Linked DNA regions of Homo sapiens. The protein of the gene in region 1 interacts with the protein of each later gene in a pairwise test. Each region holds a gene or a part of one and is shown in the gene's direction. Other genes may lie near its edges.

Evidence for each region.
Region 2: the proteins of FAM210B (region 1) and CNIH3 interact in binary tests that used the Homo sapiens proteins (3 or more experiments, as listed by UniProt).
Region 3: the proteins of FAM210B (region 1) and TFRC interact in binary tests that used the Homo sapiens proteins (3 or more experiments, as listed by UniProt).
Region 4: the proteins of FAM210B (region 1) and TF interact in binary tests that used the Homo sapiens proteins (3 or more experiments, as listed by UniProt).

Annotation. Positions count from the first base shown.
Region 1 is NC_000020.11:56,361,950-56,368,973, forward strand, and holds the end of FAM210B (protein FAM210B, mitochondrial), read left to right. Parts: intron 1-3,137; coding exon 3,138-3,313; intron 3,314-4,121; coding exon 4,122-4,338; 3' UTR 4,339-6,714; downstream 6,715-7,024. UniProt on the Homo sapiens protein: Plays a role in erythroid differentiation. Involved in cell proliferation and tumor cell growth suppression. Involved in the metabolic reprogramming of cancer cells in a PDK4-dependent manner.
Region 2 is NC_000001.11:224,611,490-224,619,333, forward strand, and holds the start of CNIH3 (protein cornichon homolog 3), read left to right. Parts: upstream 1-4,827; 5' UTR 4,828-5,685; coding exon 5,686-5,766; intron 5,767-7,844. UniProt on the Homo sapiens protein: Regulates the trafficking and gating properties of AMPA-selective glutamate receptors (AMPARs).
Region 3 is NC_000003.12:196,079,073-196,085,965, reverse strand, and holds the start of TFRC (transferrin receptor protein 1), read left to right. Parts: upstream 1-3,875; 5' UTR 3,876-3,923; exon of another isoform or gene 3,924-4,135; intron 4,136-6,893. UniProt on the Homo sapiens protein: Cellular uptake of iron occurs via receptor-mediated endocytosis of ligand-occupied transferrin receptor into specialized endosomes. Endosomal acidification leads to iron release.
Region 4 is NC_000003.12:133,756,382-133,763,405, forward strand, and holds part of TF (serotransferrin isoform 1 precursor), read left to right. Parts: intron 1-449; coding exon 450-628; intron 629-1,387; coding exon 1,388-1,565; intron 1,566-2,793; coding exon 2,794-2,948; intron 2,949-7,024. UniProt on the Homo sapiens protein: Transferrins are iron binding transport proteins which can bind two Fe(3+) ions in association with the binding of an anion, usually bicarbonate.

The DNA of each region.
Region 1 (7,024 bases):
CTGGACGACAGAGCACGAATCTGTCTCAAAAATATAAAATAATAAAATAAAAGATATGTTGGCCAGCTTGGTCTTGAACTTCTGGCCTCAAGCAATCCTCCTACACCTCAGCTTCCCAAAGTGTTAGGATTACAAGCATGAGTCACCGTGCCCAGCCAATATTTTCAAAGTACTCAGAACAGTGCCTAGTACAGAATATACACAATATAGTGTTTATTATTAATATGATTTCTCAAGTGGAAGAAAACAGGTGTCACTCCAAACACTGCGATCGGCTTGGCAAGGTCCTTGGCTCATTCTTTAAACCTTCCTACCCCCTCTCTATTACAGGTTTTTGTACTTTAAAAAATGTTGGGGAGAGGCAGAAGGGGCATCTCACACACACACTGTCTCACACACACTCTCACACACATGTGCATGCATGCTGAGTACAGACAGAAGATGTGTCACGCCGTCCTGTGCATTCAGGACAGTGCCTAACACATCCCGGGTACTTACGGCAATGTTTCACGAAGAAATGAATGTCTAAAAATTTTCCATTGCCTGCAAGTCACGCCCTCATAAATTCTTTTATTTCAGCTTCTTTAGTCTCCCCAAAGGTTAGGAAGAAAAATGCGTGGCTCACAGTGCTTATAGATGGGTGTTTTTATCAAAACAAAAGGAATAAAATTGTCCAGTAACTGGGTGTTCTCTAGAATGTCAGAAGCCAACCGTGGTGCCAGCTAACCCGAGATTGTCCCTGTGTCTGAATGTCTTGGCCCTACCACAGTCTTGCAGTAGATTCTGCTCAGTTCTATAGCTGGAATCCTGGCTGCCTTTTTATTTTTATTTTTTGGCCAAAAGTCCTTTTGCCAAAATAAAGACTATAAAGAAGAGGGCCCTCGCAGAGACAGCTGCAGTCGGTCCAGTGATTGGACAGAATGGGGCCAGGTGTCAAGGGCATGGGTGTTTGGCCCTGCGAGGGGCTGTAGGTGGCCTCCTATCAGTCCCCACCACCTGGCTGCTGTCCCCTCTGCAGCCTCCCTCAGCAGCTGGAGGTGGGTGGGGCTTGTTTATCAGGAAGAACCGATGCCCTCCACAGCCATCCTGGCCGGGGGTGGCAGGACTAGTCAGAAGGCTTCAAGGAAACGGGAGGTCACATGTGCTGGCCAAAGAAAGGGGGGCTGATGACATCTTCCCTCCTCCCCTCCAGAGCCTGGACATTCTGGAAAAGTGTCTTCCTTTAAGAATGGTCATTCTGGCAGGACAGGAAAGGGGAGCCTGCTGAGTACCACAGAGGCTGAGGCCTGGTGGTCACCAGCCCAGTCACCAGTCCATGCTGCCAGTTAGCCGTCCCTCCCTCCTGAGCCTCAGTCATCCATCTGTCAAAACAGGAGCGACAAAGGTTCCTGGGTCATGAGGCAGTGAGGGATTTATGAAATGACGCCTTTGAAGTGGAAGCTCAACTCCTGGCTCAGCAGAAGGGACCTGTCATCGGGACACTGAGGGTTTTCCTCAAATGTTCTAAAAAATCTTATGCCTCTAAAAATAACAGGGTAAAAGTGGGCCAGCTGCAGAGCCCATAACAAGAGCTGACCTCCAGCCAGGTGCGCATCACCTGCCGGGACAAGCCCCAGGACTGTCCTTAGAGAAGTCTTTTGATTAAAGTGCTCTGTTATTGAGAAGTGGTTTTTTTCCCTCCCCTAATGTGGGTGAGGTTGGTATTTTTGTTTCTCCCACACATTCCAGGCTTGGTAGGTGCTCAGTAACTGTTAGCAGATGTCCCATGCAATCCATGATTTCTGTACAAGTCCTGGTAGGGCACTGTGCAAAAATCGCCCCCACTTTGTGTGTTTCAGATGTCAGGTGTAAATCTTGATTCTAGGAGTAAATCTGCCATCGCTTTTGCTGCATTAATTTTGTGCGCACCGTCCTTTTTTGATGGCATATAACATGGTTGTCACATGCTCAGGCTGTGGCCTTGGAGGGCCTGGGTTCTAATCTTGGTGACATCAGGCCAATGACCTCACCTCAGCAAGCCTGTGTTGCTCCTTTGCAAAGTGGGAAAAGCAGTAGTATCTACCTCTGAAGGTTGGCATGAGGATGGAAGGAGAAAGGGTTGGAGGACCACCTGGCTCAGAGAAAATGCTTGATAAAGGATCATTGTCCCCAAGCTTGTGAGCCCTGGTGTTTTAGTTACTATTGCTGCTGTAACAGATGAGCACATAACCTGGTGGTTTAAAACAATCCACATTTATTATCTTACACTTCTAGAGGTCAGAAGTCCAAAATGGGTCTTAATGCACTAAAGTCAAGGTCTCAGCAGAGATGGGTCCTTCTAGGGGCTCGAATCCATGTCCTGCCTTTTCCAGCTTAAAGCCGCTTGCATTCCTTGGCTCATGGCCCTTGCCTCCATAAGCCAGTAGCACCGCATCTTCAGCTCTCTCACTCTGCTTCTGTCCTCACAACCCCCTCCCCGACACTGAGTTTCCTGCCTCCCTCTCTTCACTTATAAGGACCCTTGTGATGACGTTGGTAATAATGTAGCCCAGGTAATCCGGGATCATCTCCCTATCTCAAGACCCTTAATCACATCTGCAAAGTTCTTCTGCCATGTAAGGTGACATATTCACAGATCCTGGGATTGGGACATCTTTGGAGTCATCATTCTGCCAGCCATACCTAGTTCCAGGCTTGCATTGCACTTAGTGACTAAGTTGGCTCAAACTCGGCTCACTGAGTAGGAAAGGGGTAACTGATCCACGCCTGTAATCCTAGCACTTTGGGAGGCCAAGGCGGGTGGATCACCAGGTCAGGAGATCAAGACCAACCTGGCTAACACAGTGAAACCCCATCTCTACTAAAAATACAAAAAATTAGCTGGGTGTGGTGGCACACACCTGTAATCCCAGCTACTTGAGAGGCTGAGGCAAAAGAATCCTTTGAACCAGGGAGGTGGAGGTTGCAATGAGCCACAATCATGCCACTGCACTCCAGCCTGGATGACAGAGTGAGACTCTGTCTCAAAAGAAAAAGGAAAGGGGTAACTGATCTCTCATCCAGCAGGAAAGAGTATAACATTGCATGCGTGTATAAAAGCCGGTAATGACTGCCCGTGCCTGCCCTAAAGCACCTCCTCTTCTCTGATTTGTACACAGGACCCCAGCCAGGCCACGGGGACAACAGGCAGCAGCGTCAGCTGCACAGAGGAGAAAAAGCAAAGCAAGTCACAGCAACTGAAAAAGATTTTTCAAGAGTATGGCACTGTTGGCGTGTCATTGCACATTGGAATCTCATTAATTTCCTTGGGCATATTTTACATGGTTGTGTCAAGGTAAGATTTTTGACAGTAATTAATATTTGTTTTTTACTGTCATGTAAGATTCTATGTGAATAAGAACGTGTTTGCTAAGACTTTTTTTTTAAGACAGGGTCTCACTCCACTGCCCAGGCTGGAGTGCAGTGGCATGATCACAGCTCACTGCAGTCTCGACCTCCCTGGGCTCAAGTGATCCTCCCACCTCAGCCTCCCAAGTAGCTGACACTACAGGCATGCACCACTGCACCCAGCTGATTTGTTTGTTTGTTTGTTTTGGGGGACGGACTCTCGCTCTGTTGCCAGACTGGAGTGCAGTGGCGTGATCTCGGCTCACTGCAAGCTCTGCCTCCCGGGTTCAAGTGGTTCTCCTGCCTCAGCCTCCCGAGTAGCTGGGACTACAGTCGCATGCCACCAAGCCTGGCTAATTTTTGTCTTTTTAGTAGAGCCAGGGTTTCACCCTGTTGGCCAGGATGGTCTCAATCTCTTGACCTAGTGATCCGCCCCCTCGGCCTCCCAAAGTGCTGAGATTACAGGTGTGAGCCCCCGCGTCAGGCCGATTGTATGTTTTTTTGTTGTGTTGAGACAAGAGTCTTGCTATGCTGCCCAGGCTGGTCTTGAACTCCTGAGCTCAAGCGATCCTCCCACCTCGGCCTCCCAAAGTGCTAGGATTACAGGCGTGAGCCACTGCACCTGGCCACTAAGACTTTTATTCATTCAGCTACTTCATTACATTTTTTAAAATACTGTAAATCTTATAGCCAAATCAATTTCTTCATTTAATCCCTTGCTGTAATAATTGTTTTCTTTGCTTCTTCCCCCCTAGTGGTGTGGACATGCCTGCAATCCTGCTGAAACTCGGATTTAAAGAGTCCCTGGTACAGTCAAAAATGGCAGCAGGCACAAGTACCTTCGTGGTGGCCTATGCAATCCACAAGCTGTTTGCGCCAGTGAGAATCAGCATTACGCTAGTCTCTGTGCCCTTGATTGTCAGATATTTTCGAAAAGTGGGATTTTTTAAACCTCCAGCTGCAAAACCTTAATGAACTCTTCAGTCGTACACACTGAAAACCTATTTCTTCTAAATTACATGATTTGGATTGGTTTTAGGGTTTTAGGGTTGTAGGGTTTCTTTTGGAGAGGTAGGGGGCTAATTGCTATGTTCTCATGGATAAACTTTGCCAGCAAAAATCAGGCTTTTGAACAATTTTAATTTTTTGCCTCATAAATTTTGTGAATGCTATTCATTATAGGGCTTGTATATATAATCTAAAATGTCAGCAAGGCATCGGAGATGGGTTAACATCTCAAAACAAAATAGCCTACAAATGTTCCTTGTGGGAGACTTTGGCGAGGGTCTGTGGGTAAAAGCACCAGGGGGTTAATCTTGGCTCAGTTTCCTAAAAAGCATTGATTAATTTAACTGGCTTTTAAATATCCCCTTCCGCTGATATTTGTTGTCAGCTGCCTACAGTTTAATATGCAGCGTTCACAAAACAGCTGCCAGTGCTACAATTAATGAAGCAAAACTTAATATGTAATCACAATCTAAATTAGCATCAATACTTTGACATTCATTACATTGGTTTGGGGGAAGAAAAGTAGTTCTGGTATGTTTCATTGATCCCCAGATACCTTCCAATCTGGACATGATGGGGCTGATTCCAGATGGTTTTTCTGAAATTTCATTAAGGTAGGTCAGCGTCATTTGTCTCTGTTTAGGTAAAATATAAAAACCCTGCCCAGTAGCAGTGGCATCGCTTGGTTCCTGATGCCCATGTTCCAGAGGAATTCGGATACCACAAACAGCTAAGACAATCTCAGCTTTTCTTAGACAATCTTCTATCTCAAACTTCAGACATTCCAGAATTGTCATGATGTTTACACTGTCTGAGTTAAAAATCCTGTTCAAGAAAAAAAAAGATTTTGTATCACTTCTTAAAAAGGAATATTCATAGCACTTGTCACAAATAGAAGGCAACCATGAGATAATACAAGCCAGGGAGAGGCTTGTATTACATGACAGGTGTAATTAGTCTGCTGAGCCAGCTTTACCCAATGAAGGGCATATGTGTTAGAGAGATTAGCTAAGAGTAGAAATTCGAGCATAGAGGCCAGGTGCGGTGGCTCACGCCTGTAATCCCAGCACTTTGGGAGGTTGAGGCAGGCGTGTCACTTGAGGCCAGGAGTTCGAGACCAGCCTGGCCAACATGATGAAACCCCGTCTCTACTACAAATACAAAAATTAGCCGGGTGTGGTGGCACACGCCTGTAGTCCCAGCTACTGGGGAGGCTGAGGCAGCATTGCTTGAACCCAGGAGGTGGAGGTTGCAGTGAGCCAAGATCACACCACTGCACTCCAGCCTGGGCGACAGAGGGAGACACTGTCTCCAAAAGAAAGAAATCCCAGCGTAGATCCAAACTGAGACACTGAGGCTTCGTCCTTATAGTAGTCAGGAGCAGGCGATTGAAGTAATTCTGTCCTGCGGGGTTCAGCATCATGCACGTTCCCCCTGGGCCATTCTCTGATGCAGGGCACTTGCTCCACACTCTGGGAACCCAGATTCACCAGTCTGCCCTGTCACGTAGTTGAAGGAGTTGCATTTATCTTTCTGGCTCCTAATTCCTTTAAAATTACATTTGTTGCAGAACCTCCACAAGGCTAAATAAAATTACATTTGTGACCATCAGAGAACTGAATAAACCATTAACTGGCCATCCTGGTTTTGCAGAGATCAGGTTGTTGACAGTTCCTGGTTGACCCACAGCTACCCATGTCAGTTATCTCCACTAACATATCCAAGAATCTTTGTAGGACAATTTCTCCACCTGCAAGGTCTTTCAGGTAGAACTCTTCTTTTAAGGCAATTAGCCCATTGCCAAAAGGTTTTACTGTCTTAAAGCTGTCTTTCTGAGATCTAATTCCAAGGACTTCTCCACAGCTAAGTGAGATGCCTCACACCATTAGGTGATGCTTTGGACAGAACAGAGTATTTTCATCTTGTGTTTAAAGCAATTCCTTGGCTTCGGCTCCTCACCACTTTCTATGCCAGTCTCCCATTTATGTCCCTAGTAATGCCTATGCAAAAAAAAAAAAAGAAAAAAAAGAAAAACTGATGGTGAAACCTACAGGTTTAAGGGCTTAAATCTCAAACTTTGTTAGGAGTAACAGGAGCGTGCTGAGCGGGCAAGCAATAAAACAAATCATACCAAAAAGCCACATTGCTCTCTCCTAAGCCCCAACCCCACTCCACTCCTGTGGCCAGGGGTCCAAACAGAAAATAACCGGAGAAGACAAGGAGGTCAAAGGATCAGGGAACTAAGCATTATGTGAATTCACCAGCAAGATGTACAGAACGCCTGTGTTTACATTGTTTTTATGGAACTAGCAGAATAAAACATCTATTTTAAAAATGAAAGCCATTGTTTCTCTAATTTATCTGACAAAGTGAGCAGCTTAAATTCTGTGAAACATCTTTATAGTTTATGAACTTTTTTATATTCCTTCTGGTAAGCCATGGTTGTTGCTGATGATGAAGTGGCACTGTGACCAGTGTATTAATGTGCTACTACAATGAGCTTTTTCTTTGCTTGTGTGGGATTGTCTGGGGAAACGTCCCAAGTCTCACTGGTGTCACTGGGAAAGTCAGTCACGTGATAATAACTATAGCTTGGGAGGGTGGCACATGAACTATTTGGGAAGGTCAAAGTCAGTTCAGCTCAAGACTA
Region 2 (7,844 bases), on another chromosome or scaffold:
TCAGTGGTCCCTGCTCTCTGTATCTTCTTAGCTTTTCCCTTCTTAATGCGTTGATTTCCTCCTTATGGTCACAAGATGGCTGCTGTACCTCCAGGCATCAGGTCTGCATTTCAGGCAAAAAGAAATATTATCTAAAGAGTTCAAACTGTGTCATATGGCCTCTCCTGGCTGCATGGTGGGTGGGGAAAAAAATCAAGTAATTGGCTTTTCAATGTCTACAGTAGAGAAAACAATGTAGGTTGGTCACTCCACTCAACATCCATTCCCAATCACCATCTCCCTTGCCTTCCTCTACTGTGTCACTAGTACTTTTTGATTTTTTTAAACACTGCCTTGTGAAGGAATTACCGCCTCACCAATTAGACTAGAAACCTTGTGGATCCCTGACAGCGCCCAGAACTATGGACACTAAAATATTTTGAAATAACGAGCAGTAACTGCCTGGGGTTCTTATTTTCTGAAGTTTTGCAGTAACCTTTGCCGAGATATTGTTCTGTAACTAATAAAACAAGGCAAAGCAGGACCAGGTAAATGGCAAGAAAAACAGTGGCTGGATGGAGACTTGAAAGTCACAGTGGTAGGATAATGGATTCCATTTTTAAATTTGAAATTTTATTTTGATGTAGAGACTCTTGGTTCTGGTGATGCTGTGCTAGTGAATTCAGACCGGTTCTCCCACTGAGCACAACTTATAAAGCTGAATGAAATACAGTAACATCTTCTTGAAAGCATCAAAGACCTAATAAGAGAGTACGGAATTACTGGGGTCAAAAGCTGAGAGTGATTCAGAATCTAGAGGGGTTGGTTTAGCTCTTGGGGCCAGTTTTTTTTTCTAGGGGCATTTCTTAATCTTGAGGAGGTGGCTGAGGTATGCTTTTAGGGGCATTTCTTAATCTTGAGGAGGAGACTGAGCTATGCCTTTAGTACTCTGTGGCGCTAGGGGCAAAAGTCAGAGTCCAAGGACCATCAAGGGTTGGGACTTGATAAGCCCTGTGTTTTGACTTGGGATCCAGAAGGACAGCTCCATGTGAGTAAGGCTGAACCAGAAATAAAGCAGCCCTCACACAGACCACAGTTATCTTGGTCATCCTGGAAAATCTCAAATGCTGAATTTGGATTAAGGTAATCCTGGAGCACTAGGTTCCCCTAGATACCTGGCAAAAGAAGTTGAAAATCCTCCCTGGAGAAAGATAACATAATTTTAGGCCTCAAATGACTGTAAGAAAACTTTTCAAAACAAGTTTGGCACAGTAAAAATCTACTAGATGGATAAGAAGCGAGGACTCCGTAAACAAGAACCAGCAGAAACAAAAGATCAGAGAGGTCCCAAAGGGACTCAGAATTTTGGTGTCACGAAATTTTATACAGTACAATTACTACAATGAAAAGAAATGATCTATATAAAATAAAAAGCAAAAAAACAGCTAGAAAGAAATACACCAGGATTGTGTTGGTGGTATCTGAGAGCAGCAAACTGTGGTGTTTATCTTTTTCATTTTTATATTTTCCAAATTATTTTATATTTTTGAGACAGGCTCTCGCTTTGTCACCCGAGGTGGGGTGCAGTGGCATGATCACAGCTCACTGTGCCTTGACCTCTTGGGCTCAAGCAATCCTCTGGCCTCAGCCTCCTGAGTAGCTGAGACTACAGGTGTGCACCACCATGCCTGGCTAATTTTATTTTCATTTTTGTAGAGACCGGGTCTTAATTATGTTGCCCAAGATGATCGCGAACTCCTGACCTCAAGTGATCCACCCGCCTCAGCCTCCCAAAGTGCTGAGATTACAGGCATGAGCCACAGTGCCTGACCTCCAAATTTTCTTTAATGACAATTTATACTGGAAGAAATACTTCTGTAAAAGAGAAAGCAACATAGGGTATAACCCAGAGCAGGGCTAGATTTGTAGGCATTCAACTTCTACAGCTGTCCAGGGTCTTGTGCTCAGAAGGGCCTCATGCTTGGCTTAATGTTCTGCTGTTGCTGTCTTGAAATTATTAATTTTTAATCAAGAAGCTTGATATAGTTTGGGTTATTTGTCCCTGCCCAAATCTCATGTTGAAATGTCATCCCCAGTGTTGGAGGTGGGGCCTGGTGGGAGGTGTCTGGGTCATGGGGGTGGATCCCTCATGGCTTGGTGCTGTCCTCGCAATAAAGAGAGTGTTCTCACAAGATCTGGTTATTTACACGTGTGTGGCACTTCTCCACAACACTCTCTTGCTCTTGCTTTTGCCATGTGACATGCCTGCTCCTGCTTCACCTTCTACCATGAATAAAAGCAACCCTGAGGCCTCCCCCGAAGCCGAGCAAATGCTGGTGCCGTGCTTGTACAGCCTGCAGAACGGTGAGCCAATTGAACCTGTTTTCTTTATAAAGTACCCAGCCTCAGGTTTTTGTTTTTTTTTTTTGAGACAGGGTCTGGCTCTATTGCCTAGGCTGGAGTGCAGTGGTATGAACACAGCTCACTGCACCCTTGACCTCCTGGGCTCAAGCAACACTCTCACCTTAGCCCTGCAAGAAGCTGGGACTACAGGTGCATGCCACCACACCCGGCTAATTTTTGTATTTTTTGTAGAGATGGGGTTTCTGCCATGTTGTCCAGGCTGGTCTCAAATACCTAAGCTCAGGTGATCTGCCCACCTCGACCTCCCCAAGTACTGGGATTACAGGCATAAACCACCATGCCTGGCCAGGTATTTCTTTATAGCAATGCAAGAACGGCCTAATACAAAGTCCCACATTTTCATTTTGCACTTGGCCCTCCAAAGTATGTAGCCGGTCCTGACCCAGAGGCAATAAAATGTAGATCGGTTCATTGCTCTGGTCATCAGCCTCTGGATTTGCTCTAATTTCTCCACTTCTCACTGAAAGGCATCTAGTTTCTAAACTGGAGGGAGATATGAGGCCAGGCACTGTGGTGCACACCTATAATCCCAGCGCTTTGGGAGGCCAAGGCTGGAAGACTGCTTGAGGCCAGGAGTTTGGGACCAGCCTGGCCATATATTGAGACCTATGTCTGCAAACAAAACAAAACAAAAATTATCTGGGTGTGGTGGTGCATGCCTGTAGTCCTAGCAAGGAGTTTGAGGCTACAGTGAGCTATGATAGCACCACTGCACTCCAGCCTGGGCAACACAGCAAGACTGTCTTCAAAAAAATAAAATAAAATAAATTGAAGGGCCTGGAGCGGTGGCTCACGCCTGTAATCCCAGCACTTTGGGAGGCCGAGGTGGGTAGATCACGAGGTCAAGAGATCGAGACCATCTTGGCCAACATGGTGAAACCCCGTCTTTACTAAAAATACAAAGATTAGCTGGGCGTGGTGGTGCGTGCCTGTAGTCCCAGCTACTCGGGAGGCTAAGGCAGGAGAATCGCTTGAACCAGGGAGGTGGAGGTTGCAGAGATCACGCCACTGCACTCCAGCCTGGCGACAAAGTGAGACTCCGTCAAATAAATAAATAAATAAATAAATAAATAAATAAATAAATAAGTAAAAGATGTGGCCAAATAGCTGCAGGAATGTTGGGGCATAGTAGAAAGAGCCCAGGATTAGGAGTCCGCAGACAGGATTCCAGTTCTGTCACTAGAAAGCTGTATCTCTATCTTGCTGGAATTCATCCCTTCCAGCTCTCAAGGCATTGGAATCACATCTGTGAACAGGAAAACTAGCACACCAGAGTCAGAATCAAGCAATAGTTATTTATCTAGTTCCCACCCTGTGCAAGGTACCAGGTGCTCTAAGATTCACTCCAATCCATGAAGTGCGTCTACTCTTTCACCGAGATTTGCCAGTCGTCTTTCAGGGTATTTTTCCTTGCTTTCTGGATTTGATGACTTGTCTGAAACTGAAGTTCTCTCTGGAATGACTGGACCTCTTTCACTGCAGCGTCAGGAATCTCTTGCAAAGCAAGCATGGTGAACTTCCAAGATGCTGGGCCACTGGGGGAAAGGGTGCAATTAATAATCCCTACCACTTATTGAACGTATACCAAGTGCTAGGTTTTTTACTTATGTTCCCTTTTAATCCTTTGAAATGGCTTGACTCTACTCTTATTTATGTTTTTCTGATAAGGAAACTAAGGATTAAAGAGGTTAGGTAACTTGCAGCTAGAAAACGGTCTACCTTCAAAAGCATCCTCTTGACAATTCCACTAGGACCAACACCAATACCACCGAGCCCTCGTTGCTGCCTCTTCAGCGCAGAATAGCCCACCAAGTCCACGTTTCCCTAGTCCCAAGGTCGGATGGCTGGGGAGGGTAGAGGATGCAACGGAAGGACGTTAATGGAGAATTTTGCAGGGTCTGGGAGCAGAGCAGTAAACGCAGCCCTAAGCACTGAGTATGCTACAGTTTGGTAAAATCCATCCAAGCAGCTTTGGGATCCAAGGCTTGCACTGTATCCCCAACCAACACTAGGCAACGCCCCAAGTCCCCACACTTCCCACTCCGATAGGCGAAACTGCAAGAACCGGGAGGGGCGGCTGCGGCGTTTAGGCGCGAGGCACACACCATACCCTTCCGCAGCTTCCCACCTCCTCCAGACGCACGTGTTTAAAGAGTCCCTGCTCCAACCGGTCCCGCCCCACCTCCGCTCGGCCTCCAGCCCTGCTTGTACTGCTGGCTTCAAGTTTCCTCCGAGAGGCGGGCGTGCACAGCTGCAGTGGCGGCGGCAGCGGCCACCAAGCGCCCGGCGGCGCTTCGCCACCCACCTTTCCTCAGCCCCCGGCGCTGCAGTCTCCGCCCGCCGGGGAGGGCGCGCTCAGCGGAACAGGAGTCGAGGGTGGGGCGCCGAGAGGAGGGAATCCCGGGTCGCACCGCTACAGTTCTCGCAGTGGCAAAGGCGGCGGCGGCGGCGGCGGCAGCGGCAGCAGCAGGTGGAGCGAGCTACAGCGTTTGGCCTGAAACCCACTGCTGCAGCCACCCGGGCTGGAGTTGGCCCGTTGGGTGGAGCCAGTGCTCGCCCCGGTCCGACCCCCGGTTTCCGGGACACTTGGGTTGCGGAGGCCGGCTGGCCGGAGTCACGGTTGGGGACGGGCGCGCCTCGGAGCGCACGGCTGCGCTGGAAGCCGCGTCTGGGGCGCAGGACCAACGGGACCTACCTCCTCCCGGCTACCTAAAGACTCCTTCTCTCGGGAAAGAGCGCTGCCCGGCTCTGGGATTTGGGAGGAGCTCGGAGGCCGCTCGGGCACCTCGCTGGACACTATCCGTTTGCGCCCCGGTGGCGCGGGAGGGTCCGGAGCGGAGCGCTCGTCTCTCCTCAGCGGTTTAGTGGAGAAAAGCAGAGAGCTCTTCCTGGGGCGAATGGGACCTCCTCCCTCGGTCCTCCGTGGAGTCGTCGCATCGCTTGTCGTGTTGGTCTCGAGGGGCTCACAGCTTGGCACTAATTTGCAGGTGTTCGCTGCTGATTTGGTTTCTTCTTCGATTTGCGGACGGTTCCCTCCAGCGACTCTCGACACACGTTTTCCTGTCTTCGCCGGAGGGCCGGGTCTGGGGTCGCCGGAGCCTGCGGGAATCCAGCGCTTATTCGCTGACCCTCGAGTCGCTTCGCTAGCTGTGCGCCCTCCTGGGCACTAGCCTGGAGAGGAGCGTGCAGACGCGGCTCCTTGGAGGGAGTGCGGTCCTCTAGGGAGGCATCGGGCTCCTAGGGGCTTCTTGGCGTGTGTGGTGGGATTGGGGTCCGCCGGCCATGGCCTTCACTTTCGCTGCGTTCTGCTACATGCTGTCTCTGGTGCTGTGCGCTGCGCTCATCTTCTTCGCCATCTGGCACGTGAGTAACACGCTTTGGTCTCTCTTCTTTCGCCCCAATTTCGCTAAATTTCCCCGATTTCACCCCACTTTTTCCACCTTGCGGGCGTGGGCGAACCGGAAGGTTGGACCTTCTGCCGCTCCACTGTCCCGGGGCAGGAGGCAGTTCGCTGCATCCCGCCGGGCGCGCCTTCGGTGCCCTGGCTGGAGGCGAGGGGCCGCTGGTGCCCAGGTAGGACACCCTCTGCAGGGCCCGACTGGGCGTCCCGGGTCCCGGGCGCCGGGGAGTGGCGGCTACAACCACAACTAACCCCTTCCTCTCCCGCCCCGTCCTCTCCTGCCGGCGGGAGGCGAAGGAGAAGCGCCGCCGTCGGTCCCGGCAATTAGTCAAGTAGCTATAATAACTAAACATTTAAAATGTCAGCATCTGTGGTGGGTTGCATTTAGATATAATTGGAGACAAAGTGGAAACACGACGGGAGCGCCTTGTAAGAGGTAGGGAGAAGCCGAGCCCACGGAGAGGAAGGAGACCAGGCGATGGGGGTCGAAGTGGAAGGCGGTGGGGGAAAGGCGAGAAGGAGAAGAGCAAGGAGGCGAGGGAGACTGGGAAGGGCAGGCATCATTAAGGCCATGGAGGAAAGTCACGAAGAGAGACCGTGGAGAGCGACGACGGTGTCCTCCATCTGCCCTCTTGGCGTCTGAAGTCCGACTCCTGAAGACCCCCTGCAGGTGGCGAACCTCCGCTAGGCCCCCAGCGTCCCCAGCCCACACAAGCTTCCTGTCACCCTTCCCGGGGCTACGCCAGGTGGAGGGCAGCCGTGGATCCCAGTTCTTTAGGTGTGGGTGGGAATAGAGGAGCGCAAGCTTCTGAATAGGGGAAGAGAAGTACTGAGAGAGCGCGCAGGAGTGCGTACGCCGGTCCTCTCAAAGACTGTGCAACATTTAGCGAGTGCATGCAACTCTCAAGGCTTCCTTCTCTGAGGTTGTTTAAGCCCCCTATCCTCACCCTCAGAGGGCTGGTGGGAAGAATGGCCAAGGCCAAATGTTTAGAAGGAGCACCCCAGTGCATAATTTCCCACCTTTAACAGCCTTGCCCTGCCCAGCGTCTAGGTGACAGAGAAGGACCCTGAGACGAATTCTTGGAGGCATGGTTCTGGTGAGCATCACAGACTCTCATACAGTGGGGATGACCCAAAATGAAGACGTGGAGAAAATTGCAGGGTGGGTGAGATGCCCTTGTTTTCTATAAGTGGTTTGCAGAGTGAGAGTTTGTCTTAAAATAGAACTAAGCAGCTAGAGCAGCTCCTGCTACAGGGCTCTGACAGAGAGGAGAGGGGAAACTCGGGGAGGAAGGTGGCTTCCGATCATGTAACCTTAGGAAAGACCCTTGCTGGCTTCCTTCCACATCTCTAAAGTGAGAAAATTGACCTGGATAGTCGCTAAGCTTTCCCCCATTTCTCAGATTGTGTAAATCCGTGCATCAGTAGACTTAGGAATCTGGGGGTGACAGGGAATCCAAACATAGATATTTGGGGGATGATTAAAACAATTCCGCTATTTAGAAGTAATGGGATTTTAAACCCTCCCTTCTCTGCTCTGCAAGGCTGGGTCTAATCTATAGTAGAAAATTGAGGCTTGAAGTTGTTGACAGTTCTTAAGGGAAAAGGAAACTTACCTGATTTAGAATAGAAAGGAATACAGATTAGATCATGCCCAAGCAGTGCAGCAAACCTCTGCTAATGTGCTTTAAAGGAACTTTCTCAGCTTCTTTGGATATGGGGAGTTACTTGGATTCTAGAAGGCCAACTACTCCCTTTTCTTCTGCAATACTTCATTTGCTGTTTTCTGTTTTTGCCTTGGCCAGAGGGTGTCAGGTACCAGAGAGCTCCCTCAAACTCGAGTCTGGCTTGGAGTTCTCTGAATTGGTCCCTGAAGCAGAGCAAGTAACCAGAAAGAATCATTTTCTCTCATTCAGGGAAAGATGATTAATAATTCAAGAACAGCTTCATTGAGTGGTTTGTGCAGCTGGTTGACATTTGAATGAAAATCAGGTGTTCCCTCATCCAGCACTGGCTCTATCCTCCAGCTTCTCAATGCTCA
Region 3 (6,893 bases), on another chromosome or scaffold:
CTGCCAGCTGGGGCTCTTTCACTAGGTAAGTGGCTTATCTGGTTTGCTTTTCCTGCCAGTTCTCTCTCACCAAAAAGCAAGACTTCTGCTTTCATCTCTTGGTGAAGAAAAAAGAGAGGGAGGCAGAATTTTGCCGTTAATCATCCTGCACTGTTGTTTCCAGCAGTAATTCCCCTGAATTAGCTGTCAGACATCTCCTTAGGAATTTTAACACACACCACAGGCTCCTTCTCACTACAGAGCCTTCAGGTGGCCGGTTCTCCTCTGCTGAAATGCCTTCATCCTTCCTCTTCATGAGCCCACATCCATCCCAGTCTGCAGACATCTTCCACGTCACGTTCCTACCTGACCCCACTCCGCCCCACGAGGACTCTGATTCAACCATGCTGACCAACAGTGTATGATGTGCCAGTCATTGCTTTTAGGGTCTTCTAGACCCTAAAAGAGGTATTTTTGGAATGAGGTATTTTTATTCCCATTTTATTTTTTGAGAAGGAGTCTTGCTGTGTCTCTCAGCCTGGAGTGCAGTGGCACAATCTCAGCTCACTGCACCCTCTGCCTCCCGGGTTCAAGCGATTCTCCTGCCTCAGCCTACTGAGTAGCTGGGATTACAGGTGCCTGCCACCACACCCGGCTAATTTTCGTATTTTCAGTAGAGATGGGGTTTCACCACATTGGTTAGGCTGGTCTCGAACTCTTGACCTCAAATGATACGCCCGCCTCAGCCTCCCAAAGTGCTGAGATTAGACGTGTGAGCCACCGTGCCCAGCCTTTATTCCCATTTTAGAGCTGGTACAACCCAGGCTCAGGAAAGTTGAGAACTCCAGCTTCTTGGCCCTCCAGGCTTTGTGCTCTTTTCTTTTCCCCACAGCTCATGGTATCTTTTTCCTTGCCAACCTCCTTCCCTTTATGAAACTTCTCGTATTTCTGTGTACGATGCAGAAGAACTGCAAGAGTTTTAGTTCCAGGATGAGGTAAGCCTCATGGAATAGTTTGTGGAGGGTTGGAAATTAAATAATTTCCAATAATAATTTCGAATAATTTGGCCAGGCTCGGTGGCTCACGCCTGTAATCCCAGCACTTTGGGAGGCCAAGGCAGGCAGATCATGAGGGCAGGAGTTCACGACCAGCCTGGCCAACATGGAGAAACCCCGTCTCTATTAAAAATACAAAAAATTAGCCATGCGTGGTGGCACGTGCCTGTAATCCCAGCTACTCGGGAGGCTGAGGCAGGAGAATCGCTTGAACCCAGGTGGAGGTTGCATTGAGCCGAGATGGCGCCACTGCACTCCAGCCTGGGTGACAGAGTAAGACTGTTTAAAAATAAATAAATAAATAGTAAAAGTGTTAATAAGTGGACTTTAATTGCAGTGTCTATTAATACTAATAACAGCATAAAAATAAAAATATAATTGATAGCCTCTTTAGTGTCACGTTTATGGTTTTATTTTAGTGAATATAAATTTTTGAGATTTGAATTTTCATGTCCAAATGGTCCTGGCCTCTAAATGTCTCCTAAACATATTTTTCTTTCTTTTCTTTTCTTTCTTTCTTTCTTTTTTTTTTTTTTTTTTGAGACAGAGTCTTGCTCTGCTGCCCAGGCTGAAGGGCAGTGGTGTGATCTCAGCTCACTGCAGCCACCCCCCTCCCGGGTTCAAACGATTCTCCTGCCTCAGCCTCTGGAGTAGCTGGGACTACAGGTGTGCGCCACCACGCCAGACTAAATTTTGTATTTTTAGTTGTGATGGGGTTTTATCATGCTGGCCAGGCTGGTCTTGAACTCCTGACCTCAGAAGATCCACCTGCCTCAGTCTCCCAAAGTGTTGGGATTACAGGGATTAGCCATCGCATCTGGCCACCTAAACCTATGTCCTCCATGAGGCTATAAGATTTTCACCTGCAAATACCAGCATTGTTTGTTTCTTTTTAAAAGATACTTCAGTCAAGGAAAGGCAGAAAGCCAGGCATGTTAGCTCATGCCTATAATCCCAGCACTTTGGGAGACCGGAGGCAGGAGGATTGTTTGAGCCCAGGAGTTCAAGACTAGTCTGGGCTACATAGCAAACCCTGCGTCAAATTAAAAATAAAAAATAAATAGGCTGGGCATGGTGGCTCATGCCTGTTATCCCAACATTTTAGGAGGCCAAGGTGGGCAGATCACCTGAGGTCAGGAATTCGAGACAAGCCTGGCCAACATGATAAAATCCCGTCACTCCTCAAAATACAAAAATTAGCCTGGCATGGTGGCACACACCTGTAGTCCCAGCTACTTGGGAGGCTGAGGCAGGAGAATCGCTTGAATCCGGAGGCAGAGGTTGCAGTGAGCCCGAGATCATGCCACTGTACTCCAGCCAGGGTGACAGAGCAAGACACTGTCTTAAAAGTAAAAATAATAAAAATAAATAAAATTAATAATTAAAGAAATAAAGAAGGAACACCACAGGGGAGCAGGCCTGGTGTCTGAATGTTAAGGTAGGCCCTCTGTGGATGTGCATCCTTAACCTTTTCCTGATTAGATCATTAAAGGTGCAGCAATGCTCCTGCTCATATGACTTTTTTTTTTTTTTGAGATGGAATCTTGCTCTGTCGCCCAGGTTGGAGTGCAATGGCGCGATCTTGGCTCACTGCAACCTCCGCCTCTTGGGTTCAAGCGATTCTTCTGCCTCAGCCTCCTGAGTAGCTGGGATTACAGGCGCGTGCCACTATGCCTGGCTAATTTTTTTTGAAATTTTTTTAGTAGAGATGGGGTTTCACCATATTGGTCAGGCTGGTCTCGAACTCCAGACCTCGTGATCCGCTCACCTCGGCCTCCCAAAGTGTTAGGATTGCAGGCGTGAGCCACCGCGCCTGGCAACTCATATGACTTTTAAACACTTCTCTTTGGGGAGAGAGATTTTAGAGAATGGGAGTAAAGAGAAAGGCGGTGAGAATCCCAAGTACTTTCTCTATCTTAGAGCAGAAGAAATAAAGGGAAGAGTAAAAGCCCAAGGCCCAGAAACGGATTTGCTTCTTAAAGGGCTGTTCTGTGTCCCTACGGGCCTGAAGGTCAGTTTATGTGCAATGCTTTTTAAGGTATGGGTTGCTTTCTTGCATTGTAGCTACTACCTCCCTGGCCTGCTGGTTACTGACCAGAGGGAGGGAGAGGGTGTGATTGTTTGGAAAGAGTTTAAACAGTGACAAGAATTGAATTTTATTTATTTGTTATTCATTGCACAATCCAATAACAGCGATGGCAATGAAAACGAAAGTTAATCTACAATCCTATCACCCTATTAAGTCACTTGTTTCTATTTTCCCTTTTATTCCCTCATGCATTAAACATTACGCAAAGCACTCCGCTAGTCTTGGTTAAAGTGCAGCTTGTATACATTCTGAATAAAAATTTGCATTTTGCTTTTCTTTTCCTTTTTGTATTTCTGAGGCTGCAAAATACATCTTCACAAGAGTGGCTTTAATAGTTACCTAACATTCCATCCTGCACGTACATTTCAAGGCACTGCCGCAGTGCAATATCCAACATTTAAGCGTCAACGCCAACAGATTGGACCTAGCACTGCAGGGACTGGAGGTTGGTCAAGGTCAGGCGGAGGCTGCCAGGCTACCAGGGTGGAGGAAGGCGCCGAGGCAGAGGCCAGTGCGCCCATCGCGCGGCTCCTCGGGGCACCTGCTGCCTTGGCGCCTTTTCCCTTGGCCTTCGCCTCGCCCGCAGCGCCCTCCGCATAGGGCCCCGCCCGCTGCGCGCGCATCCCCGCCCCCCGGGCGATCTGTCAGAGCACCTCGCGAGCGTACGTGCCTCAGGAAGTGACGCACAGCCCCCCTGGGGGCCGGGGGCGGGGCCAGGCTATAAACCGCCGGTTAGGGGCCGCCATCCCCTCAGAGCGTCGGGATATCGGGTGGCGGCTCGGGACGGAGGACGCGCTAGTGTGAGTGCGGGCTTCTAGAACTACACCGACCCTCGTGTCCTCCCTTCATCCTGCGGGGCTGGCTGGAGCGGCCGCTCCGGTGCTGTCCAGCAGCCATAGGGAGCCGCACGGGGAGCGGGAAAGCGGTCGCGGCCCCAGGCGGGGCGGCCGGGATGGAGCGGGGCCGCGAGCCTGTGGGGAAGGGGCTGTGGCGGCGCCTCGAGCGGCTGCAGGTACACGGGGTCGGCGGCTGTGCGCAGAGGCGTCCCTGCGCCTCTCGTCCCTTCGCCTCTCGTCCCTTCCCTTCTCTCTGCCTTCTTGCCCGCCTCCTCGGTCACAGAGCGACGAATGACGAGACCAGGTGTACCCCCACTGTCGCTCTCAGCCCCGGGGACTTCGGGTCCTCGCCCTTGAAGGCCGCAGGCCCTAGTGCGCCGGCTCCGGGCTGCGGGTCCGGGAGCGCGGGCGCAGCCAAGGTGCAGCTGCGCGGCGTGCGGCGCCGGGGGAACACGTGGCTGCTCCAGGAAGTCGCCCCAGGGAACGGCTGGGATTCGTGGGTGACCTTGGGCTCCTAAACCTTCGGTTCCCCGGGCTCCGGGCGGGCCCCGTTCTCACTGCGGAAAGGGACAAAGCTGTCCCCGATTCGGTTACTAGCGTGTTACAGGCATTAATTAGATACGGGTTTCTGTAAACTTACCCTTCGGCTCTGGTACAACCTGATCTTGCCATGCTCTGCCTGTTCGCCTTGTGTGTGGATTCTGTTTTCTCAAGGCAGAATCCGACTGAACGCCGCAGGTGTTCACATTAAGAATATTGCTAGCAGTTCTCACTACAAGACGGGAGCCATAGGAGTGACTTATTTGTGAAAGATACTTGGAGATTAGCGGTGTGGTCAGAGGGCTGTGCTGGATTGATGGGCGCCGGAGAGGCCGATTGTGTCACATTCTGCTGGACAGTTCTTTTAAGGTTGGGAGGGTGGGTAAGAAAATACATTCTGATTCGGCTCTTTTCGGATAACGCTTTCCCTCTGCTTACTGCTTGTAGAGACCTCACTTACCCGGGGGACTGGATTCTGCAGCTTTTTCCATTTTCTTCCCCGTTGATAAGAGGATTAAAGTAGGAAATTGTATTTGGCTACCCCATGCTTATATGCTAAGCTTACTGTGAAAATTAAGGTTAGGCTGTCTAGAGTACTTGTGGACCCTGCTGGTTCCCCCCGCCCCCCGGCCCTGAATTTTGGGTTACAATATGCTTCTCAAGAAAACTCAGAGTTAAGATAATTTTTGTCATCGATTTTGCAAGGTTATATATAGCATAGCATCCTTCAATTTCCTTTGGATGTTCTTATCAAGTAATGGTGGCTGTAAACCTAGCCTGTGTTGAAGATTGTTAGATAGACAGCAGTTTGGCTAACTCCGCCCTAAGGCGAGGCAGTTACTTGCCTCTGATAATGTATTTAAATGTCATGGAGCAAGATTCCCAGCTAAACCTGAATCGATCACAATGCTAGTTAAAAATGACCCTCGGCTGGGCGCATTGGCTCCCGCCTGTAATCCCAGCACTTTGGGAGGCCAAGGCAGGCGGATCACCTAAGGTCAGGAGTTCGAGTCCAGTCTGACTAACATGGTGAAATCCTGTCTCTACTAAAAACACAAAAATTAGCCGGGCATGGTGGCTCACGTCTGTAATTCCAGCACTTTGGGAGGCCGAGGCAGGTGGATCACTTGTGGTGAGGAGTTCGAGACTAGCCTGGCCAACATGGTGAAACCCCGTCTCTACGAAAAATACAAAAATTAGCTGGGCATGGTGGTGCACACCTGTAATCCCAGCCACTCAGGAGGCTGAGGCTCGAGAGTCGCTTTAACCTGGGAGGCAGAGGTTGTAGTGAGCTGAGATCGTGCTACTGCACTCCAGCCTGCGCGACAGCGAGATGCCATCTCAAAAACAACAACAAAAAAACTCCCTACTAAACCAGAAGAGTGATGGGGACGGGAAAAGATTCCTGGTCCAATGTTTTCATTATATTTTTCATATCATTTGGAATCTCATGCATCAGGCATGCCCCAGTACTGTTAAAGACAATATTTTTACTCATTATCAGGTAGTTCAATACCAGTTATTACAGGATAGGGAAGTCAGTCAGAGAAGGCTTCATAGAGATGAAGCCTTGAGCTGAGCCTGGAAGAAATGAGGAGGACCTCAAGGAACAGAGAAGAATGTTGGTGGGTAAAAACAGGGGCTGGATTCTGTCTGATTTTGGAGAAAATAGAGGGTAGTGAAGTTGTTAGGCAGTGAATGTGTTCCATTTCATGGTTCAAAACGTGGGGCTACGTTTTGCCTACCTGAGCTTCATTATTAATGTGAGAAATTGAATTGTTGTTTTCAGTCACCATTGAGAACACCAAAGATAACACAAGTAGCTTAGATTATTATTTATTTATTTATTTTTGACAGAGTTTCACGCTTGTTGCCCAGGCTGTAGTGCAATGGTGTGATCTCGGCTCCCTGCAACCTCCACCTCCCCCAGGTTCAAGTGATTCTCCTGCCTCAGCCTCCCCAGTAGCTGGGATTACAGGCATGCGCCACCATGCCCGGCTAATTTTGTATTTTTTTGGTAGAGATGGGATTTCTCCATGTTTGGTCAGGCTAGTCTCAAACTCTCAACCTCAGGTGATCTGCTCGCCTCGGCCTCCCAAAGTGTTGCTGGGATTACAGGCGTGAGCCACCATGCCCGGCCATCGCTTTGTGTTCTTAAAATTAATTTAAAACAAGAAAACTTGAGGAATGATGGTTCAGATGAGTGTTAAAACTTGCAAGATGTTTTTTCCTAGAAAAGGATGATTAAAATTGGTTCAGGGTGGGGCCTTCCAGTTCTGGCTCTAATGATTGGGTCCTTACTGTTCTGGTGGAGTGGTAGTGATAAGCTTTTTGTAACAGAAGGGGCAAAAGATTGTGCTTCTGGCTGGGCGCAGTGGCTCACGCCTTCGATTT
Region 4 (7,024 bases), on another chromosome or scaffold:
GTGTTCTTTTTCTGTGTTCCCTTTTTCATGCTCAGTAATTGGAAATGAGCATACTGTATTTCTCCTTTATCATTGCCTGGGTTTCCACCTGTGCAGAGTTAGGTACCTACGGGGTCCCCATCTGGATTCCTGGGCCTCTTTCCATCATTCAATCTCTCCACACGGTGCCTCTGCCTCTGGGGTAGTGTTGCCATAACCAAAGACTGGGGGTTGGTGCTGCTAAGATCAGGCTCATGGTGGAATGAGGAGCAATCACTGCTACATGGGCATCAGAAGCCTTTACCTGGCTGTGGGCTCTTGAGCGAGTCATTCTCCCGCATGTTCTCTGGCCTTCAGTGCTCACTCCAGACCTCTCAGCTCATACTTTCTATGATCAATTGAATTTCAAGGATGGGCACCACAGCCCATGGCTCTCCTGTGTTAAGCTCACCTGGGCTTTCCCTCCCCAGAGAACTTGGCAAACAAGGCTGACAGGGACCAGTATGAGCTGCTTTGCCTGGACAACACCCGGAAGCCGGTAGATGAATACAAGGACTGCCACTTGGCCCAGGTCCCTTCTCATACCGTCGTGGCCCGAAGTATGGGCGGCAAGGAGGACTTGATCTGGGAGCTTCTCAACCAGGCCCAGGTATCCCCACCTGCCATCCTCCCCTCCAGCTTAGTGCTCCCTGCTTGGATTTGGGGGTTTTCCTCCTGGCCATCTTGTCACTCTGGAAGTCTGTGTGTTCAGGATACAGTGGGAGCCATGCCACATGTCACTAAGTTCTCTAAAAGCTGGGACTCCCCACAGAGCAGCAGGGAGCCTGCTGTGGTGCTACCGTCTGCCGCCCTTGCCTTTCTGGCTGGTGACACCTGAAGAGGCTCTGTATTGCTCTGTTGCATTCCTTTCTACCTAAACTTCAAGGCCCAAAGCTAAACCCCTCCCCAAGGAGGCTTTCCATGACCCTCCCAGAAGGAAATGGTCTCTCTCCCCATGCCCCTCAGCCCGGCTGTGAGGGGGCTGCCTGCACAGCGGCTTTACTTCCCAAGAGCTGTGTGATTTGGGCTCAGCCAGCTTCCTCTTGCCGAGCCGTCCCATCTGTCCACTGAGAGTTTGACTGGTAACCACACAGGGCAGCCTCTGGATTAGCCACGTTTCTTGTTCTCACCGATGTCTCAACCCGTTCCGGGAGACAGGCACAGAAGCAGGTTCAGGCAAATCGCGGACCCACGAGGGCTACAGGCAGAGGAAGTGCTGGGTGAGCAGGAGCAGGTCCGACTGCCCTCTCTCCTGGCATCTTGAACTTTTTCATGTTGTTTCCTGCAGAGATTTCTTTTCTCTTCAGTCCCATTTCTCAGCCTCCTTTCTTCTGTGTTGCCATCCACTATTCTGTTTTTCTATGAACAGGAACATTTTGGCAAAGACAAATCAAAAGAATTCCAACTATTCAGCTCTCCTCATGGGAAGGACCTGCTGTTTAAGGACTCTGCCCACGGGTTTTTAAAAGTCCCCCCCAGGATGGATGCCAAGATGTACCTGGGCTATGAGTATGTCACTGCCATCCGGAATCTACGGGAAGGCACATGTGAGTACCTGGGAAGAACCAGGTGACCACAAGCACTTGGGAAACCTGGTGAGCACAGGGGCCAGAGATTGAGTCTTTTCAGGGACCTGCACGCCTCTCCTGATGCTCCTTTTTCTGACCTGTCTGTGAGCCCAGTGTTAGACTGATGCTGAATGGCGTTAGTCATTATGAGATGGCCTTGATGTCACCATGGGCTTTACAGGAAATCCACATTTAAAATGACGTGGGTTGGTTCCAGTATTTCCTTTGCATCAATCAGGACTGCCTTACCTACTCTGTGAAGGCAATTAGCTTATCACAGAGTAAGTGAAATAGAACAAAATTGCTATATATTGCACATCTCCAGCCAGTCAACATGTACCATAATGAAGAGGTGCTCTAAGAGAGGTTGATCCCAGTCCTGGATTTCACTGAGTCACTGTGGTTTTGCTTGACCATTCATTTATTCAGCAGACATTTATTGAACATCTAGCCATATGCTCTGCTAGGTGCTGGACATAGGATGGCATGACAAATATATATTTGATTCTGTTGTCCTGGAAATTTCAAACTGGGGAGAAGATAAATGTTTAATGAATAGTCATGCTATTGGATGATGAATTACAAAGTAAGAGATATGTTTAAAAGGGGAAAAATATGACAACAAAATACCATGGCCCTATGAGACTGCAAAACAAAGAAAAATAGGCCCTGGACTTGGCGTTAAGGCAAAGCTTCCTTGAGGAAGTGACTCTTGAGCTCAGTCTGAAAGATGAGCAGATGTACATTTATTCATCAGACATTTATTATGCTGACCATGTGCTAGCATTGCCCTAACCCTGAGGATGCCCTGGTGAACAAGACAGGCAGGGCCCTTTCTGTGTTGGAGCTTCTGTTCTCCTGCAGAAAACCTGACAATAAACAATGAACATATAAATAAGAACACCTCCAGTAGTTAAGTGCTATCTGAAAAACAAGAAGGAAAAAAACAGCCAGAGGTCATATAGTGCCCAGAGGCTGGAGAGGAAAGTTGGCTTCTCGGAAGACATAAAAAACTAAATTTAAATGAGAAGTCAACCAAGAGATTGTGCATTGACTTTGCTTTCTAAGGTGATTAATTCCTTGAATGGGGTCTGTTTGTTTATTGCTGGCAAATCCCAGCATTTGCATGAAGACAGTGAGTAGTGCTGACAAACACCAGGCAACAGCTAGGGCCGCTTCTGATCTTTGTTCTTTTTTTATGCCATAGGCCCAGAAGCCCCAACAGATGAATGCAAGCCTGTGAAGTGGTGTGCGCTGAGCCACCACGAGAGGCTCAAGTGTGATGAGTGGAGTGTTAACAGTGTAGGGAAAATAGAGTGTGTATCAGCAGAGACCACCGAAGACTGCATCGCCAAGATCATGGTATGTCACTCCAGCCTTCCTAGGGCAGCGTCCCTGTCATTGCTGCCTGCTGGCCCCCAAGACTGAGCTAGGGAGTGTTCCTGGGAATGATGCAAAAACCTGGCTCCCAGGAACCTTGCCCTGACTATGTGAGCACAGCCCCACCGGAGGTTCAGAATCTTTGAGCTTGTGGATCTGAAGGGTGCCCACAGGGCTCAGTTTCCTCCTTGTATGAGTGTATGGTGAAAGGGCAGGCTGAGCAGTGCCTGCTTAGGGAGGCTGGACCATGGTGTGGGTGTCCTGAGACCAGTGGTGTGCCACGATCACTGAGATAAGATCCTGAGTACATGGTAGGATCCAATCAGGTACAAATTTGCTTTGTTGATCAAAAGAGTATCCTAGCCTGGCATGGTGGCATGCACCTGTAGTCCCAGCTACTTCGAAAGCTGAGGCAGGAGGATTGCTTGAGCCCAGGAGTTCAGGGCTAGCAACTTAGCAGGACCTTGTCTCTAACAACATTTTTTTTTTAAGAAAGAATATTCCATGTTGGCTTACAGAGAATTTTTAAAATCCTGAATGATATAAAGAAGAAATAAAAAGTACTTATAATCATGTAATTCAGAGAAAATTCCCTTATTGGGATCATTTCATGTAGGTTGCTTGCTACCTTTTACTCACTCACAGTATCTAGTAAGCTTTTCCCATATCATAAATCATTCTTGTAAAACCTAATCTGGAGCTTCTGTGTTAGTGCACACATCGAGATGGGGGAGTATGGTTTGCCTAGAGAGAACATGAAGTGCCAAGCTCCACTCCCCCTCCTCCCCACATTTCTTGCCCTCTGTGTCTCTTCCATTTGGCTATTCTTGAGTTGGATCCTTTATAATAAATCAGCAAATATATTGAAACAAAGATGCATATTATAAAGGTACTTCCTGCCATTGTCAACAGATTTTTGCTGAAATATGTTAATTCTACTTTTTGAGCACTTATGAATAACCATGTATCTTCAGAACTATCTACCATGAAGCAAAAAGGGACCATCAAGCTCATTATTTTATATTTCATACAATTTATAGATATCACTTTATGCTATTTTAACATATATTCCATTTTAATTTTTGTCTGAGTCAAGACAAGAAAAACCAAACTAAGTTAAAGCAAAGCCTACAAATTCAAAACCTGAGTCTATACAAATCTGTTAGCAGTTTGAGTGGCTGGGCTTCAATATTATACTCTGGATGTGATACAATAGATAAAGTTTTTTACGTCTGTAAAAAAAAGGAAGAGCAAAAGACTCTTGGGAACATGTGAAATCTTAAATGAAGATTAAGTACAACCAAATGTAAACATATTTTAAAAGGTTCTTCTTGGACATCATAATTTGCTCTCCTATGAAGATGTCATCGTTTGAGCCTTTAATGTTGGAAATAGCTTACAGATGTTGGGGCAGAAACCAAAGACCAACATTGCCATGTTCTGTGAGACCACGTCCAAGTGGATGATTGCTGGATAGGTATGTTTCATGCATAACATTTAGTTCATAAAATTATATGCTACTTTAGGAGGTCCAGGGCCCATGGATTAATGAAACAAAAGTAACTAATCTCATTGCTAGTAAAGAATTATTGGAAACAAAGTTGAAAGACATAGTTTATTTGGTCCCACACCTGTGACACATCATCACTGTCAATGGGAAGCCACTGACCTGTCCCAATTTCCCAAGGTTGTTATCATGGACATCATGGCTGCAGTAGAAAGTGAAGGTGAGTGTGGAAAACAGATCCCAAAGTGACCAGTGCCCTCGGTTATTGCAGTAATCATGTTCATGAGTAGACACACAGGACTTCCAAAGGGAGTCATCATCTCGCATAGAAACATCATTACTGGTATTACTGGGATGGCAGAAAGGATTCCCAGACTGGAGGAGGAAGATGACTACATTGGATATTTACCTGTGGCCCATGTTCTAGAATTAAGCTTTGAGCTTCTTTGTTTTTCTCATGGATGCCTGCTTGGCTCCTCTTCACCCCAGACTTCAGTGGATCAGTCTTTAAAAGTAAAAAATGGGCTGCCCACTGTGGCATGCAGCTGTAGTACCAGCTACTCAGGAGGCTAAGGTAGGAGGATTGCTTGAGCCCAGGAGTTTGAGTCCAGCCTGGGAAACATAGTGAGACACCATCTCAAAAAAATAAAAAATAAAAAAATAAAAACCAGAAGCAAAGGGTGTACTTCTGGGTTGAGACCAACACTGATGGCAGCTGTTCTGGAAATCATGGATCAGATCTACCAAAATGTCATGAATTAAGTGTATGAAATCAGTAGTCTTCAACACAATCTGTTTATTCTGGCTTATAATTATAAAATGGAACACATTTCAAAAGAGCATAGTACTGGATTGTGTGACAGCTTTGTTTTCTGGAAACTGTGAAGCTAGCTAGGTGGAAATATTCAGCTTTTATTGTATGAAAGTGCTCCACTTTCTGCAACACGCAGCAAGTTCATGAATACAGACTCACTGAACCTACAGGGGCTGGAACAATTACAGATGTGTGGATTACAAGACTGGCAGAAGTGAGAGTCCCATTAGTTTGCTGTGAAATTAAATTAAAGAACTGGGAGGAAGGTGGATACTTTAATACTGAAAAACCACATCCCAGAGGTAGAATTCTTATCGGTGGCTAAAATGTGACAATGGGATGCTACAGAAATGAAGCAGAAACAAAAGCTGATTTATTTGAAGATGGAAATGGACAGAAGTGATTATGTCCTAGAGATGCTGAAGAGTTTGATGGTTGTTTACAGATGATCGATCATAAAAAGGACCTTGTAAAACTACAGGCAGGAGACTATGTTTCCCTTGGGAAAGTAGAGCCAACTCTGAAGAATCTCCCAGTAATAGATGACGTTTGTGCATTTGCAAACAGTTAATTGTTCTTATGTCATTGGATTTGTTGTGCCAAATCAAAAGGAACTAACAGAACTAACTTGAAAGAAAGGACTTACAGGAACTTGAGAGTAGCTCTCTAACAGTTGTGAAACAGAAGATGAGGTGCAGTAGTCCCCCTTTATGTGAGGTTTCGCTTTCTTGGGTTATACCTACAGTCAACCGTGGTCCAAAAATGTTAAGATATTTTGAGAGAGAGAGAGAGCACATTAACATAACTTTTATTATAGTATGTTATAATTGTTTTATTATTGTTGTTGTTAATCTCTTACTGTGCCTAATTTATAAACTTTATCATAGGCTTGTATGTATAGGAAATAAACATTGTATAGGGTTTCAGGTTCCAAGACTGGGGGTCTTGGAACATATCCCTTGAGGATAAGAGGGGACTACCATACGTAAAGTACTTTCTGAAGCTGCTATTTGGGCGTGTCTGAAAAAGTTTGAAAATCTATTAAAAATTGGTTTGAGCCCTGACCCATGAATCCTGAAACTGGTCTGGTGACAGGTGCCTTCAAGCTAAAACACAAAGAATTTAATACACATTACCAGGCAGACTCTGAGCGAATGTGTGGAAGAAATGATTTTTCTCTTTTGGCATCAGTTTGCTACAGTGAGCTCAAATCAAATAGGAAATTATTTGAAATGCATGTTTCAAACTGTGAGGCAAACTCCATTCTTCATATTCAACCTAGATTTTTACTTCTTAAGACATCACCATTTTCAACAGACAGGATTAGTAAAATAGTAGGAGAGCAAACTTGTGTCTGTCTTTTTCCTTTTCCCCTCCTACAACTACCTTTACCTAACCTGTGACTGTATTGTCAGTATAAGGAGTTTTCTGAATCATAGTGAGGAAGCAGATTTCTAAAACCTCAAGTTTCTAAACATGACCTATATATTCAGTTTATGTTTAAAGTTTGGATGTGTAGAGGGAGTTATGGAAAATATATAAAGTGGCTGTTGGGGGGTGCTTTTTAACTTACAGTATTAAAAAAATGCAAGGCTATTGATGTGAAATTACATACATTTCAAATGCTTATGAATCAAATCATTATTGAGGATAATATTTGCTGATGTGTAATTACTATCTTGCATGAATTAAGAGAAATAAATATAGCCATACTTACGTTTTAAAGAAAAAAATGAT